Linked DNA regions of Homo sapiens. The protein of the gene in region 1 interacts with the protein of each later gene in a biochemical or structural test. Each region holds a gene or a part of one and is shown in the gene's direction. Other genes may lie near its edges.

Region 1 (7,928 bases):
CTTCAAATCTAAGAAATAAGCAAAACGTAAATTGAAATTAGGAATATCCATATTCCACTGCTGTATATTCAGAAGAATGAATTGCTGACTCTAAAGCAATTCCAGAAAAATGTCTGAACTTTTGTGCTATGGCAGCATTTTTAGAATAAGTGTATGATTTTCTGTGGTGCTTTTTTTTTTTTAAAGGAACAGCATTCAGGTGTGTGTATAAATACCAGCATGTTCATTTAGGAGAGCATCGCATTGCTGCTTCATCATCCAAAGAGCTTTATAGGCTCTAGCTTTCCCCCTACTTTAAAGATTCTTGGCGTATGTTAGGAAACCCAGTATGTAAGCTGCTGCAGGTTATCTTTACAAATGGGAGACCTAGGCACAAAGAAACTTACCTAATGTCATTATGTTGAATGACCATTAGCCAGAACTCCTGTTTCCTATTTCTTCATATCTCTTACTGTTCATTTTAGCACTGGATTGTAGGATCTGAACGTTGAGCACAGAAACAGGTACCAGTGTCCTGGAATCAGACTTGGGAGGCCCCTAGTTAATGAAATGTTTCTTGTTTCTTCTTGATGTTGTTTGTTTTCACAGTGCAGCCTAAACCACTAGTGAAAATTAGACTCACTTCTTTATGTTTTTTAAAGCCCGGTGGCATTTCTATCCAGATTTTGTTCCTGTCTGAAGGATGGGGTAATATATCACTAATGGCATTATTGTGGTTTTGTTGTTTTGTGAATTAAAAGTATTACTTTTTAAAAAGAACAGGGTAACAAGGTCTTTAGCCAAAGTTGTGTTTCTTTATTCAAATAAGTTGAAGTTATGACTAATAGCTACTATTGTGGTGCTTGGTCATAGGAAATTAGGTCCTTAACAGACTACCAGCTCCTCATAACTTGGAAGAATCTAGAACAGCCTTCCTTTTTGTAAAAGCCTGCTGTATTTTAGCTGCAGGATTGTATTATGCACATAGTGACCAAGATAGAGGGTGGCTTTCTTGAGGACAAGTGGTCTTACTTTTGTAGTCAGTAACGTTTCGTATCAGTTCTTTGCAATATATGTGAGAATGGGTGGATGATGAGTGACTACAGAGGAATTTTATATCATTTAATTTGCATTAGTGGATTTCCAGGTATTGATCAAAAATGAGCTGCTAAAAAGTTTTAGGAATTTAGAAACTGGTGAGCAAAATTTTACTGTCTATCCCCAAGTGGTATTCTGTGGCTAAAATCTTAAAACTTTCCAATCAATAGAGAGGTTGTATCTTTTTTTGACAAATTGTTTTGAGGAGAAAAGAGAAAAAGGAGGAGGAAAATGGTAAGCGTTTATATGGCAGGGCAGAAAGCTACATTAGTGCCAAAAGTTTCATCTTTTGATTTTGAAAAATCAGTTCTTCATTTCCTTTGTAGTACCTCTTAGAAAAGTGTACACAGAAGTAAAAGTGGCCACCTTTGACAACTTTTAGCATTTTATGAATACTGCCTGTGTGTGTAGATTTCAGTACTTCTTGGGGTCCTTGGGATCTTTCAAATTAAACTGCTATTTCTTGAATAAAAGTTAAGAGCAACACTATTTTTAAAAAACAGCATTTTGAACCAGTGCAAAATGACTTGGAAATTCCCATATAAGGCTTCCTCTTAGAGGTCTTATTTTATAAACAGATTGACTATCCATTTTCCCCTAGATATTAATTATTTAGCTTTAAACAAAGGGTGGTGGTATTAAAATTTTGCTCTTTAAGCATGTTTAGCATACTTGCAGATATTTTTTAAGTTCTGTGTTGTCAGTAGGTAGTGTTAAAAGGATGGGCATTGGTTATACATCTTTGTTAGTAGCTTCATCGTGAGCTGGTGATCTTTATATTATATCAGAATGGTGCTTTCCTCTTTATTTCCTCTTTATTTCTCCTGTGGTAGGTTTTTTACCCTCCTAAATTTAGGCATGTGTATGAAGACATCTTCCTGAAACAACACATTAGTGGTATTTATCTAAGTTTTTGGTACATTCTGATTTTCACTAATGTCTCATGGTATAAAAGTAGTGCAAACAGTATCACTAAAGTATTGCTAACATTAAAAATAATGTTAAAAATTATATGTGAACTAGGCCGTTTCCAGCATTGTACTGGGGAGTCACAGATTAAGAGTGTAGTTAACCTGTGTCAAACAGAATCGCAGAATGCGGGCACTTAGAAACCTAGAAACCATTAGAACCCAGGCCCTTTTTACAAATCAACCAAGACCCAGAGAAAGGATGTATATGCTCAGCGTCATGTAGTCAGGGGGTGGAAGCACTCGGTGTAGGACCTTGTGTACCTGTCATGAAGTCTTGGTAGATGCGAGGAGCATAATTAGGACATTAGCTGGATGTTTGACTTTGTGATGTCCTGATCTGTACTGGAAGAATTGAGGAACACTCACCAGGAGTCAAATGAAGTTAATTCGTTTCTAATGATTTTTGGAGTTATTTTTCTCAAAGGAAGTGTTTGACTTTGGTAAGTTGCTAGTTGAAGTGTGGAATCCAAGAGTCCTCGAGGGCTATAGGGACCCAGGCAGGCGTTCTCTATGATTAGTATCCACAGCAGCATGTTTAATGCTTCAATGAAATGCTGCTTTATTCTCTTGAAGCCTCAGTAAATAGTGTTTTTATGGTTTTTTTTTTTTTTAACCCATAGAGTTCCTCCAAGTCTCAGCATGATCACTTGGCAGATTTCGGGATTAATAGTTTAATAGTTTTATCCCTTTAATATATGAGTTTATTTGAGAGCAAACCACATGTGAAAAGAATATCTTGATATAGTGTGCCCATTTTCATGTATAAAGCAGGGCTCCAGATAGTTTCTAGAGTTTAATTTCAGGATCTACCATCTCATCATCAGGGTGGTGTAGTGTAGGAAGTGCTGTAAATGAGAGGGCAGAAGGCTTGAGTTCCAGAACTAGTTTCTTCATTGATACCCACTTGACTGTTTTCTCATCTATGAAATAAGCATACATTTCCTGCTTAAGTCACAGGATTGTTAGGAAAGTCAGATAAACTATAGATAGATGGGTAGAGAGATTGATTGTCATGTTTTAGTAATCTACAAAATGCTTTTCTTTCCTGAGAGAGTATGGCCTAGGAAGTGGTCTGCCTGGTTTCAGGTGTTAGCTCCAACTGTAGACGCTCTGTGACGTCAAACAGTTACTTAAGTTCTCTGTGCCTTGGTGTCCTTCCTCAAGTAAAACTGTTAATAGTGCTCATCTAAGACGGTTAAATGTGCTTAAAACAGTGCCTGGCCTGAGAGATCAATAAAGTATAGTAGTAATAACAATATTACATTTGGGTCATGCGAGTGATGTTAGAGGCAGAACCAATAGTAGAAAGGGTTGTAGTGTTCTCCTAATGAGATTCAAAGGGTCTGCTCTATGCCTTGCCTTTAAAAAAAAATTGTGTTAAAATACATGTAACATAGGCTAGGCGCGGTGCCTCACGCCTGTAATCCCAGCCCTTTGGTAGGCCGAGGTGGGCAGATCACCTGACGTCAGGAGTTCGAGACCAGCCTGGCCAACCTGGTGAAACTCCGTCTCTACTAAAAATACAAAAAATTAGTTGGCCATGGTGGCGGGTGCCTGTAATCCCAGCTACTCAGGAAGCTAAGGCAGGAGAATTGCTTGAACCCGGGAGGCAGAGGTTGCAGTTGGCCGAGATTGCACCATTGCACTCCAGCCTGGGCAACAAAAGTGAAACTCGTCTAAAAAAAAATAAAATAAAATAACATAAAATTTACCATCTTAACCATTCTTAAGTGTACAGTTCAGTGGGTAATGTTGTGCAACCATCACTGCCGTCCATCTCCATAACTCTTCATCTTGTAAAATGGAAACTCTATCCATTAAACAGTAACTACCTATTTCTCCCTCCCCCATTTCCTGGCAACAACCGTCTTACTGTTTCTATGAATTTGACTACTCCAGGTATCTCATATAAGTGGAATTGTACAGTATTTATCCTTTTGTGGCTGGATTATTTTGCACAGCATAATGTCCTCCAAGTTTATCACTGTTGCATGCATCAGAATTTCCTTCCATTTTAAGGCTACATAATTTTCCATTGTATGTATATACCACATTTTGTTAGCCATTCATCCATCAGTGGATGGGTTGCTTCCATGTTTTAGCTATTGTGAATAATGCTGCTTTGAATATGAGTGTACAAATATCTCCTGAAGACCCTGCTTCACTTCTTTTGGGTATAGACCCAGAAGTGGAATTGCTGGATCATAAGGTAATTCTATGATTAATGTTTTGAGGAACTTTCCATAGTGGCTATACCATTTTACATTCTGACTGCAGTGTACAAGTGTGGCTGTTTCTCCACATCCTTGCCAACACTTCTTTTCTGGTTTTTTTGATAGCAGCTATCCTGACTTGTGTGAGATAGTATCTGATTATCATTTTGAATTTATGCCTTGCCTTTTTAAATAATTTTTTTTAACTCCTGAGAGTAAACAGTTACCCTCAAGGAGTAGATCATGTAATTGGGGTGATGAAACTTGAAAGATTAGAGGAAAAGTTTTCTGTGATGAAATAACATTGCTCAGATAATATTTTTATATAGGTCAAGTGCAGTGAGTTTTAGGGATGCCACCAGGGTAGTGAATTACGTGCCATCATCCAGGCTGAACTTTCTTTTTACTCTGTCCTTCTACATTCTTGGCAACCATTGTTCATTGCAGGTGATGAAATTAATATCTTGGTGGAGCACTTGTTAGTTTGGTAGTAGAGTAAAAGTAACCCCAAATTTGAGAGCTAGGAGCTGTAGATATGTTCCTGCCTGTCTTGAATTTGTCAGTTCAGTTGTTCTTTTTTTCACCACTTTGTCTACTAGATTTCAAGTTAAAAAAAAATTTTTTTATTGGTTTGGACAATAGCTAAACTGATTGAGTTTGAATCTTTTAAACAGATAGTCTCTGAATTGGAATAAATGAACCCCAGACGGAGACTTCTTCTAGCATGCAGAGTGAAACTGTGAGATCGTTGTGGAAATATATGTATTTTCTCCATTTTGTGTAACTGGTGGTGAATGGCTACAGGCTCTGGACAGGAGAGTCAAGGCATCCTTATTTCTGTAAAACTAGGTTTATTTTCCTTAGGATACCAACAATCCTCCCTCATAAATCCTAACTTTTTATCTCTGATTCACATTAAAAGGATCACTTTCAGCTCCTCAGAGCTCATTGGTTTAGTTTCTCGAGCATCTCTCCAGTTCAGAGGAATAAACTGAGGCTGAAGGGATCTACCTGTAGCTTAGTTTTTGATGGTTTGGAGGGAAGTGTCCTGGACTGTGGGTCTGTCACCTTCCTTTTTTATCATTTCTTGGTATTTTGTTTGCATGTGAGGACTCTAGCTGCCTTTGTGACTTGGGACTCCTTTGTGCCACCTTCAGAGTTGCCCTGCTATTCCCAGTCTCTAGTTTGGGAAGTTTAAGTTAGACACCTGGTGGGCAGCAAAATATGCTTCAGTTGCTATGCCAGATACCTTTAGATGTATTGAGAGGGAGGTTCATCTTAACTGGGTTGTCCAGGCCTGACCTGTTGCTGAATAACCGGAGACCAATGCAAGACTTTACATGGGGCAGCGTCATAAAGGCAACTAATGGGTTGTGCCTGTAAGGAGTTAGGAGTACTGTTAGAATTAGAAGAGGGTTTTTGGTGGATATAGGCCTCTGGCTGTGGGTTTTTTTCCTCTCTGTTACCACTCTTATAGATCTATAGCTGCTTTCCAGTATTGGATGACAAATCTAGAATTTTCTTATATCGAAAGGCATTGACTAAACTGGTAGCATTGGCTGAATTTATAAGTATAAGATAGCCAGCTTTGGCCGGGCGCAGTTGCTCATGCCTGTAATCCCAGCACTTTGGGAGGCTGAGGCAGGCGGATCACCTGAGGTCAGGACGAGATCACCCTGGCCAACATGGTGAGACCCCGTCTCTACTAAAAATACAAAAAAATTAGCTGGGCGTGGTGGCACACACCTGTAGTCCCAGTTACTTGGGAGGCTGAGGCAGGAGAATTGTTTGAACCTGGGAGGCGGAGCTTGCAGTGAGCTGAGATTGCGCCACTGTGCTCCAGCCTGGGCCACGGAGTGAGACTCCGTCTCAAAAAAAAAAAAAAAAAAAGCCAGTTTTTATTTTTCTTTTAACTTCTTAACATAATTTTGGACTTAAAAAAAGTTGCAGGAATTCCCATATCTGTTTCACCCAGACTCCTCAAATGTTAACATTTGTTTTATCCTTCTCTTTCTCTCTCATATACACACACATTTGTGTACATATACACACACCTATATAATGACATTTATGTTATGTATTTCTTCCTGACGTGCTTGAGAGTAAATCGTAGTCATCCCTAAATACTTTGGTATGCATTTCCTAAAAATAGTTTCTTACATAACCCTACAATGCCATATTAAAAAATTAGAAGGTAACCATTGATGCATTGCTGTTACCTAATCTACAGCTCTCATTCACATTTGCCAGCTATCCTTATAATGTTCTTTATAGCAAAGGAAAATCCCAGATTACATGATGATATTCAGCTGTAGTCATGTGTTACATTCAGTTGTCACATTTTAAAAGTCTGGATCAGTTTGTTTCATGAATGACATTGACGTGTTTGATCTTACAGGCCGGTTATTTTGTAGTGTGTCCTTCCCTGGCTATTTTTTAATCAGATTGTACAGTGCTTTTTTCCCCCAAAGTTTCGAGCTCCCTCGTTAATGAAAAAGGGACTAAGGAGTAAGGTTTCTAAGTGGAGTCGGGGAACATGCACAGCAGCCACATCTGCTCTCCTGGGAACCCTGGCACAGCGGGCGGAGAGCGGGTGTCATCATGGCAGCTGGCTCACAAGGACGCAGCGAGAGCCCAGCCTGTCAGTTGAGCCCCCTGTTATAGGTGATGCAAGTGCTCTTGTTTCATAGTCCTCTCCTTCTCTGTTTTGTTATGTGTTCAAAGCTGTATCTTAGTGACCAACAAAAGATGAAGGTTTCTCTGGCATGTGTGTATGTTATATTTTCCCCCTCCCCTCCCCTTCCCCACCCCACACACAGGCAAAAAAAGTCTTGCTTTATTATTTATTGGCAAATCCATTGGCCTCTCTTTGCCTCTGCTATTATAACAGTGTCTCAGTGATAAAATACTCTTTTTTCCTTAGTTACGTTTCTCCCGTTAGCCACACTTGGGAAACAAAAGCACTGTGGCAAGAGTATAGCATGCAGTCAGACTGCCCAGCTTCCAGCTTTGATTCCTGCCCCTCTCTGCCATGGGCTCTGTGATCTTGGGCAGATAGCTCAACTCTGCTACATAAGGACTTTGTGAGGAATCACAATGACTTATTAAATAATAAATTACTAAAAATATGAAAATAACACTATCATTTATTAGGTGCTTACTGTGTTCTGGTCACCATTCTGAGTGCCTTATAAAGCATACTTGATTATGATAGACTTACTTTTTCAGAACTGTTTCTATTCTTCTTCAAACTCTTTAACTCATTTAAGACAAGGAGTAATATGTATAATGAGAGTAATTATTTTTAAAGCCTTTAATCTTTCCAGCAGACTGAAAAGTTAGATAGAAGTGTTCAGTCACTGTTGTATCAGATTGATTTCTCCTTTCCTGATTCAACATTTCTTTCTTCAGGAATGGGATCTGTTGGAAAACATTAACTGGCTCTGTGCTGATTTCAGATTCTAGATATTAAGGAAATGGGAGTGGTGACAGGAAATGAGAGCCAGCAGCTGGGAAGCAAGTTTGTAACCTGATGTCAGTGAACTGGTCTTTCACTCCTGAAAGACAAAATTACATGTAACTCATTGGAAGAGCAGGTGTCTCACCATTTTGTTTCAGTTTTTCCATTTGTGAGTGCATGATATACAGCTGTTCAGAGCTATATTTT
Region 2 (7,464 bases), on another chromosome or scaffold:
AAAAGTGGAAACTCTTTGTAAGGTGTGTTCATCTGGTTGACACTTAGTAGTCATTACTTCCACTTTCCGTCCATATAGTCCTCTTAACAGTAATATTTGAGAGGCATTTTTATTAAAGCAGTCTTAAGGAGTGTTCGTCAAACCACATGTTCTGGGATCCTGAGAAAGTAGGGGAAGTTTAGAGAACTGAAGCTGCACAAAACTAATGTTTATTTTCTGTTGTGTTGTCCTGAGACCAGCTTCTTAGATTGTGTTTCCTAGTCCTACATCTCTGATTCCTTATAAAATATTCCATTATGAATTCTTCACTATTGACAATTTCTCCCCTTTTATCTTAAAAGTACCAAAGAAAGTGTAAAATGTGACTGTCTTGTCAGTCCTCTTTTTCCTGTTTTTCATGTCAGTGGGTATGAAATTACTAGCAAGGATGCATATATGTGCATATGTCATTACTAAATGCATTTTCTTTCTAGAAAAACTCAATATACTAAATTGTACTAAAAAGGAAAAGCTTGTTTTGTTTTGAGTGGTAGTATGAAAGTTGTTTTATTTTAGGTCTGACCAGTTAGAAACCAATGGATTGTAGTTTATTTATAATTAGTTAAACCTTCATGTGAATTTGGTTTTGAATTACCTTTAAGGTAGAGAAGAAACTATATAGATGTTTTTCAGGGTTTCTAAATGTACAATACAGGTTCACAATCACTTATTTGAAACTCTTGGGGCCAAGTATGTTTCCATTTTCAGAAATTTTAGTTTTCAAAAGGTAGCACAGATAAATATACTTTTACATAAACACCCCAGTGGGGTGTGGGTCAGTACCTGAAATGAAATGTTTTACTCTTCGCTCTAAGTGTATTAAATATTATGTACAATCTTATTACTTCAGATCAGGATTTGCTGTAGTTGAGTTTGCCATAAAACTTAAGAGAAAATTTTAGATGTTTTGAACTTTTGGGATATTGAAATTGCAGGTTAAGGAGCTATGGACCTTTATTTGTTTTAAAATGCTAAGAGTTTATTTTAAGTAATTTTTAAAAAATTTGTTTTGCATAGTAGTTGGAGTTACCAGGGTACTGCTAACCACACTGATATGTAAGATCTCTTTCTGAGCCTTTTATTGTTTGTAAACATGGCCTGTTAATCATTAGAAAGCCAGTACATACTAACATATCACTGCTATTAAGACAAATATTAGCATACTCTAGTAATGACAAGTCAGCATTTTACTATTCTGTATTGATTTTACTTATTCTTTCATTACTCTCATACTGTAATTAAAACTTGCAATCTGAGAGACTGTTGAAAAAGGTGATCGTTGGCTTTTCAACAGGGAGTAAGGTCTGGTTTAAAAAAAAATTAGTAAGCATTTGGCCAAGTAGATTAACAACATTCAGTTTTTCTTTACTGTCCTTATGCTTTTACTATTTTTAACATATATCTTTTTGAAGAATAGTTTGAGAATTATGTATGCTTAACTATGAGATACAGATACTATTGAAACTAGTCAGTTGTTTATAGGTACTTGTAAAATTAAAAATATATTCCAATAGCATGCAGATTTTTCATAGAGGAAATTTGAAAGCATGGAAGCACCTGAATTTACAGTACTCTGTATTAGTGGCATCACAAGTTTTTAAGCAAATGTATTAGCTCTAATTGCATACACTTAATCTTTTAAGCTTTGGTTTTATTATTATAATATGGGGGTGATAACAGTATCTACTTAATAGAATTCTTGTTATTACATGAAATAATTAATGTTAAACACAGCATAATATGTGTCACATTATAAAGATTCAGGCAATGTTTGTTAGTATTAGTACTTTTTTTTCTTCCTAAGTGCAAAAGATAACTTTATATCACTTTTAAACTTTTCTTTTAGTTGTGCTGAAAGACATTATGACACCGCCAAATTTAATTGCAGAGGTAGGTATGAATGTACTGTACTATGTTGTATAACTTAAACCCGATAGACTGTATCTTACTGTCATAACAATAATGAGTCATCCAGATTATCGAGTGAGATACATATTTAAGAATTATCTTTAAAAATTTCAAAAATTTTAATTTTACTGTTGTGTTTTAGGAAAAAGTATTGCATAAAGCTATTAATATTGTCAGGAAGACTAAAGTGCAGCATAGACTAAGAATTAGGAAAATTCCTAGACTAAAAATAGTATAAGGAGAGGGTTTACCTACTATTTGAGGCAGTTGGTCTAATAGTAAGCAATCACAGGGAGAAAGCAGAACTACTTAACTCTTCTGTGTTGAGGAATGACATAAAAGGTAGGAAAGGATATAACAAATGTTGATAAGAGGAGTCTGATGGATGAGAGGAGGGAACTGCTTTAAATGAGTTTCTACTTCAGACATAAGTTAATTCTCAGAGCCCACAAAAACTTTCACTTTTATTTGTGAAATACAACTCAGTTCTCATGGCTTAACACTTTAAACCATGAGAAAACTGAAGAGTTGAGAAGCTTGGCAGATGCTGCTGTGATAGTCAAAAAGAAAGTGGGTGCCATGAGCTACTATTGATGTATTTGCCATTGATCCCTCCTGAAAATCTAGAATGGACTTTCAGACAAATGGTTTGAAAATTCTAAATCACTAATGATTGAGATTTAGTATAGGTTTACTAAGAACGGGTTTTTTTTGTTTTTGTTTTTGGTGGATTTAGGCTGTTGCTTACTAAGCAAAGCAGGCTTTAGTTGAGGTTTATCTTGCTTTAAACAGATATTTAACAGATTTTCCTGGAGGTTTTTGTGTACCACTGGGAAAATGAAGTTAGGCAGATGACTAAGTGAAAGCTGTCCTGCTGACTCCTTATAATGATAGTCATTGTCTACCAGAAGATCTCTCCTGTCACACCAAAGGATAATTGATTATATCCTGTACCATATTATGAGTCACCTGATTGGAGATATAAGACATACTTCTCACATATTTAGATGACACAGGTTAGTACATTGAATATCAGCCAGGGTTTTTAAGGATCTTAATAGAGTGGAACTAAGGTAGAAACTATTAAGAGCAATTAATAGTGATATATCTATAGTCCTGTTTCTAAACAAGTTTTTTTAAAAACCTCAACTCTGACTATAGTGAACAGAGAAGTCTTGGACTCTTACAATTCATGTGAGAAGACCTGAAACTTTGATAACAATTATATACATTTTGTGAGTAATTTCTTTGGTGTATGCCTTCACATATCTCTGGTATGTGACCTATGCTGCAGTCCATTGAGCATAGATTCCCAGAATGTATTCTCCTGCAGAAAATGGAGGAAAATAATACTTGGCTTCCCTAATGATTACATGTGTATACAACACTAACATTTGCAAGACCACCTTTAAATAACACACTTAGCATTTTTATTTTATGAAATGTAATATGTAGTTCTTTGCATAGTTTATCCTATTAGTAATCTATTCTGTCTTTGGAATATGTTTTGTGATGATGAAATAAATACTATAAATAGTATTATTCCTTTTGCATTGAGAGTCCTGACGAAATGTCCATGTGACAGTTCATTTTGGGTTTAGCTCTACCTCTAATATGTGACCTATGCTACCAGTCCGTATAGCGTAAATTCCCAGAATATATCCTCCTGAATAAAATGGGGGAAAATAATACCTGGCTTCCTTAATGATTATATTTAAGACTTATCAAGAGACTATTTTCTATTTAACAATTAGAAAGTTAAGCAATACATTATTTTTCTCTGGAATCCAGTGTTTCTTTTAAATACCTGTTAAGTTTGTATGCAACATTTCTAAAGTTACCTACTTGTTAATTAAAAATTCAAGAGTTTTTTTTTCTTATTCTGAGGTTATCTTTTTACCACAGTTGCACAATATCCTTTTGAAGACCATAACCCACCACAGCTAGAACTTATCAAACCCTTTTGTGAAGATCTTGACCAATGGCTAAGTGAAGATGACAATCATGTTGCAGCAATTCACTGTAAAGCTGGAAAGGGACGAACTGGTGTAATGATATGTGCATATTTATTACATCGGGGCAAATTTTTAAAGGCACAAGAGGCCCTAGATTTCTATGGGGAAGTAAGGACCAGAGACAAAAAGGTAAGTTATTTTTTGATGTTTTTCCTTTCCTCTTCCTGGATCTGAGAATTTATTGGAAAACAGATTTTGGGTTTCTTTTTTTCCTTCAGTTTTATTGAGGTGTAATTGACAAGTAAAAATTATATATAAATACAATGTATAATATGATGTTTTGATGTATGTGTATATACATTGTGAAATGATTACTACAGTCAAACTACTTAACATATTCATCACCTCACATAATTATTATTCTCCCCCCAGGGTGAAAGCATTTAAGATCTACAAGCTACAATTTTCAATTATACAATGTTATTATTAACTATAGTCACTATGCTGTCCAGTAGAGCTTCAGATCTTGTTCATCTTGTGTTCCTCCCTCCCCACCCTCAGTCCCTGGAAAACAGGTTTTAAAGATAGTTGCTAATCCTTATTTCTTCTAAATTTTTAAATCAGTTGCTGCCTCAATTTCTATATGAGAAATGACTGATTGATTTCATTTTTCTGTTCACGCTACCATTTTCATATCATACTAGCACATGTTACCCATTAACTGTATTGCAGATTTGGTCTCACAAAATTCTTCTAAAATAACATTTTTAAAAAGCATATTAATCAAAAATAAGCTTTATATTTCTGAAGCTTGTTTGAGCATAGAATGCCTTTGGATAAAATACCATTACCTAGTAAAGTGTGAACTTTTATAATCCATAAAAATTATTCTTTTATAAGAATATTCATAAATGTAGTTAGATTAATAGAAGATTCTCGATTCTTTGATCAGAAAACTAAGGACTATATTGAAAAATCAGTGACAAATTTAATTCTTATAGTACATCTGAAAGAAAAAAGAAAACTCTTGGGAGAACTTTTACAGTGATTTAATTTTGCTGTTGATATATTTCTTTGGGTGGTAAGTATGGCAAAACATGTTAAAATTTAATGCAAAGAGATTTTGTACATTTTTCCATCTCTAAGAAGGACAAAGCCTAAGCCCCTCCAGATAGATAGAAAAACTCATTTAGAGAGTTCTCCTTCATGTTAATCTAATTTCTTCTTAATTCAGCTGTAAAACAGAAATAGAATGATCGTATTAATCATTTAAAGCTGTGTAATTGCATAGATTCCTTGTTCCTTTACCCCCTCTTATATCTTGTTTCCTATCCTTTGTGACTTTTTTTGCATTATATATAAGGATGCCGAAATACTGTTTATTGTTGATAGTTTACAAAATTGAATCTTACATTAGTGCATAATTTTGGTGAATGTTGAAGATTATGGTAGATTGCCTTACATTTCTGCATATTGTTTGCACCTTGGAATGATAGCACTGGCATGAATTATAGAGCTGAGGATCTAAAGATTTTTACTTTGATTTATCCCATTATCATCTGCAGGGAAACAATTGCTTTTACTGATTAAAAATGCAGGCTGGGCACAGCGGCTCACGCCTGTAATCCCAGTACTTTGGGAGGCCGAGGCGGGCGGATCACAAGGTCAAGAGATCGAGACCATCCTGGCCAACCAACATGGTGAAACCTCATCTCTACTAAAAATACAAAAATTAGCTGGGTGTGGTGGCGCGTGCCTGTAATCCCAGCTACTCAGGATGCTGAGGCAGGAGAATCGCTTGAACCCGGGAGGTGGAGGTTGCAGTGAGCCGAGACTGTGCCACTGCACTCCAGCCTGGTGATAGAGGGAGACTCCATCTCAAAAAAAAAAAAAAATGCAGTAGCAAAAGCGATGGTAGAAATTTAAAACAGAGTTGATGAGCAGCATATATTTTGGTAGTGGAAAAAAAGGTAAAAAATTTTTTGTAATAAAATAGAAAAATTTTGTAATGTGGAGGCGCAGAACACTAGATTTAAGCCAGGGGGTCTTAAATTGTGTTACATTCCTTTTAAAGTCTGATGGAAGGTATAAATGTTCTCCCCTCAAAAAATGTGCATAGTGTACATAAAATTTTGCAGTTTTTATTACATTGAAATATATTCTTTTAGACAGAATGTAAAAGAACCTTCATGAAAACTATGTCACTTTTTTATGCAAAAACCAGTGGCTACTACATGAGAGCAATGAATAAATCTAAGTGGTACAAATTAACCAAAATTAAGCTTTAGTTCTGTTCAATACTAAATTTTAATGAAAAGACTGCTATTTAACTTTTAAAATAACAAGTTGAAACTATGCTCTTTGACTTTGACTTTGCAACTTTTATATGATCTTTGATATCCAATCAGTGTTGACTTTGGTAAAAAGTGCTGAAAATGCTATTTTACAAAAGAAAGAAGAGTAAATGGAATCTGTAGATTCTATTGCCTGATGAAAGTAGACGTGTCAAGAAATAAGAATTCTCCAAGGCTCTTCAGATAAATTCATGTTTCATCATTTTCTTTGCCTTCAAGTTACTGAGATCATTTTTGGCAAGATCTGTATCATTAATGCTGTGTTAGGAAAGAAAAGATTATGACTCCACATTTTACTTTCAAGGTTGAAGAGTTAAACTGTTTAAAAAGAGTGTATGTTATCCTGTAAACAGCAGTATCAGGCTGTAGAATTTGTCTTCTGAAAGCAGGGAACTTATATATAGCAAAGAACTTCATAGTGCTCCCATTTCTTGACAAAACCTCTCGAGAAGCTCTTGATTGAAAGTCTTGGCTTTCATGAATCTGGCAGCTTTCACAATAGTGGATTTTTCATGACAAATCATCTTACACAGGGAATTATTCAAGGGTTGGCACTTGAAACAGTAGAATACTTTCACAACAAGAGATAAGATTTCTTTCAGGATTGATGACAGTCTTGCACCCTAGCGCATACTGATGAAGAGAGCAGTGGGTGACCATGACATGGAGAGCTTCTGTCTTTACCAGTGCCCCAATATCAGATGTGTTGTCTGGCAGTAAGGTGTACTGTCTGCCTACAGAATACTGAGGTTTCTTCAGGAGAAGTTTTTTGGTAAAGAAACTTTACCATTTTGAAAGTGTTAATGTTTTCTGAAGCTTCCAAAAAGATTCCAAAATGGGAATGTTTCCTTGATTGTGTCACCATGCTTGCATTTGATGAAAACTTGTAGCCGGCTATACTGAGAAATCATATCTGAAGAAAGGTGGTACTTCCAATCTTTTTGTGACCTACTTTATTATTGTTTTTTTAATGTCAGGGTTTTTTTTGGAATGGAGAAAAGTATTTGATAGAGGTATTGCAACAGTCTTATTCTTCTTCATGCTACAAGTATATTTGACTCTTTCTAAGATACTTGCCTTCACTGTTCAACTGTGTGACTTTTTGTTTGTTTAGCATTACAATCAATATCCTAGTAGGATGATTTAATCAATGATTTTTAATTGGAACAAATAGTTTTTGTAATGGTCTAGGCTTTTCCAACTTAACT

Evidence for each region.
Region 2: the proteins of CSNK2A2 (region 1) and PTEN form a complex in vitro, tested with the Homo sapiens proteins (2 studies listed by BioGRID, with this or other methods).

What each region holds. Positions count from the first base shown.
Region 1 is NC_000016.10:58,187,179-58,195,106, reverse strand, and holds part of CSNK2A2 (casein kinase II subunit alpha'), read left to right. Parts: intron 1-7,928.
Region 2 is NC_000010.11:87,929,161-87,936,624, forward strand, and holds part of PTEN (phosphatidylinositol 3,4,5-trisphosphate 3-phosphatase and dual-specificity protein phosphatase PTEN), read left to right. Parts: intron 1-1,885; coding exon 1,886-1,929; intron 1,930-3,852; coding exon 3,853-4,091; intron 4,092-7,464. UniProt on the Homo sapiens protein: Dual-specificity protein phosphatase, dephosphorylating tyrosine-, serine- and threonine-phosphorylated proteins.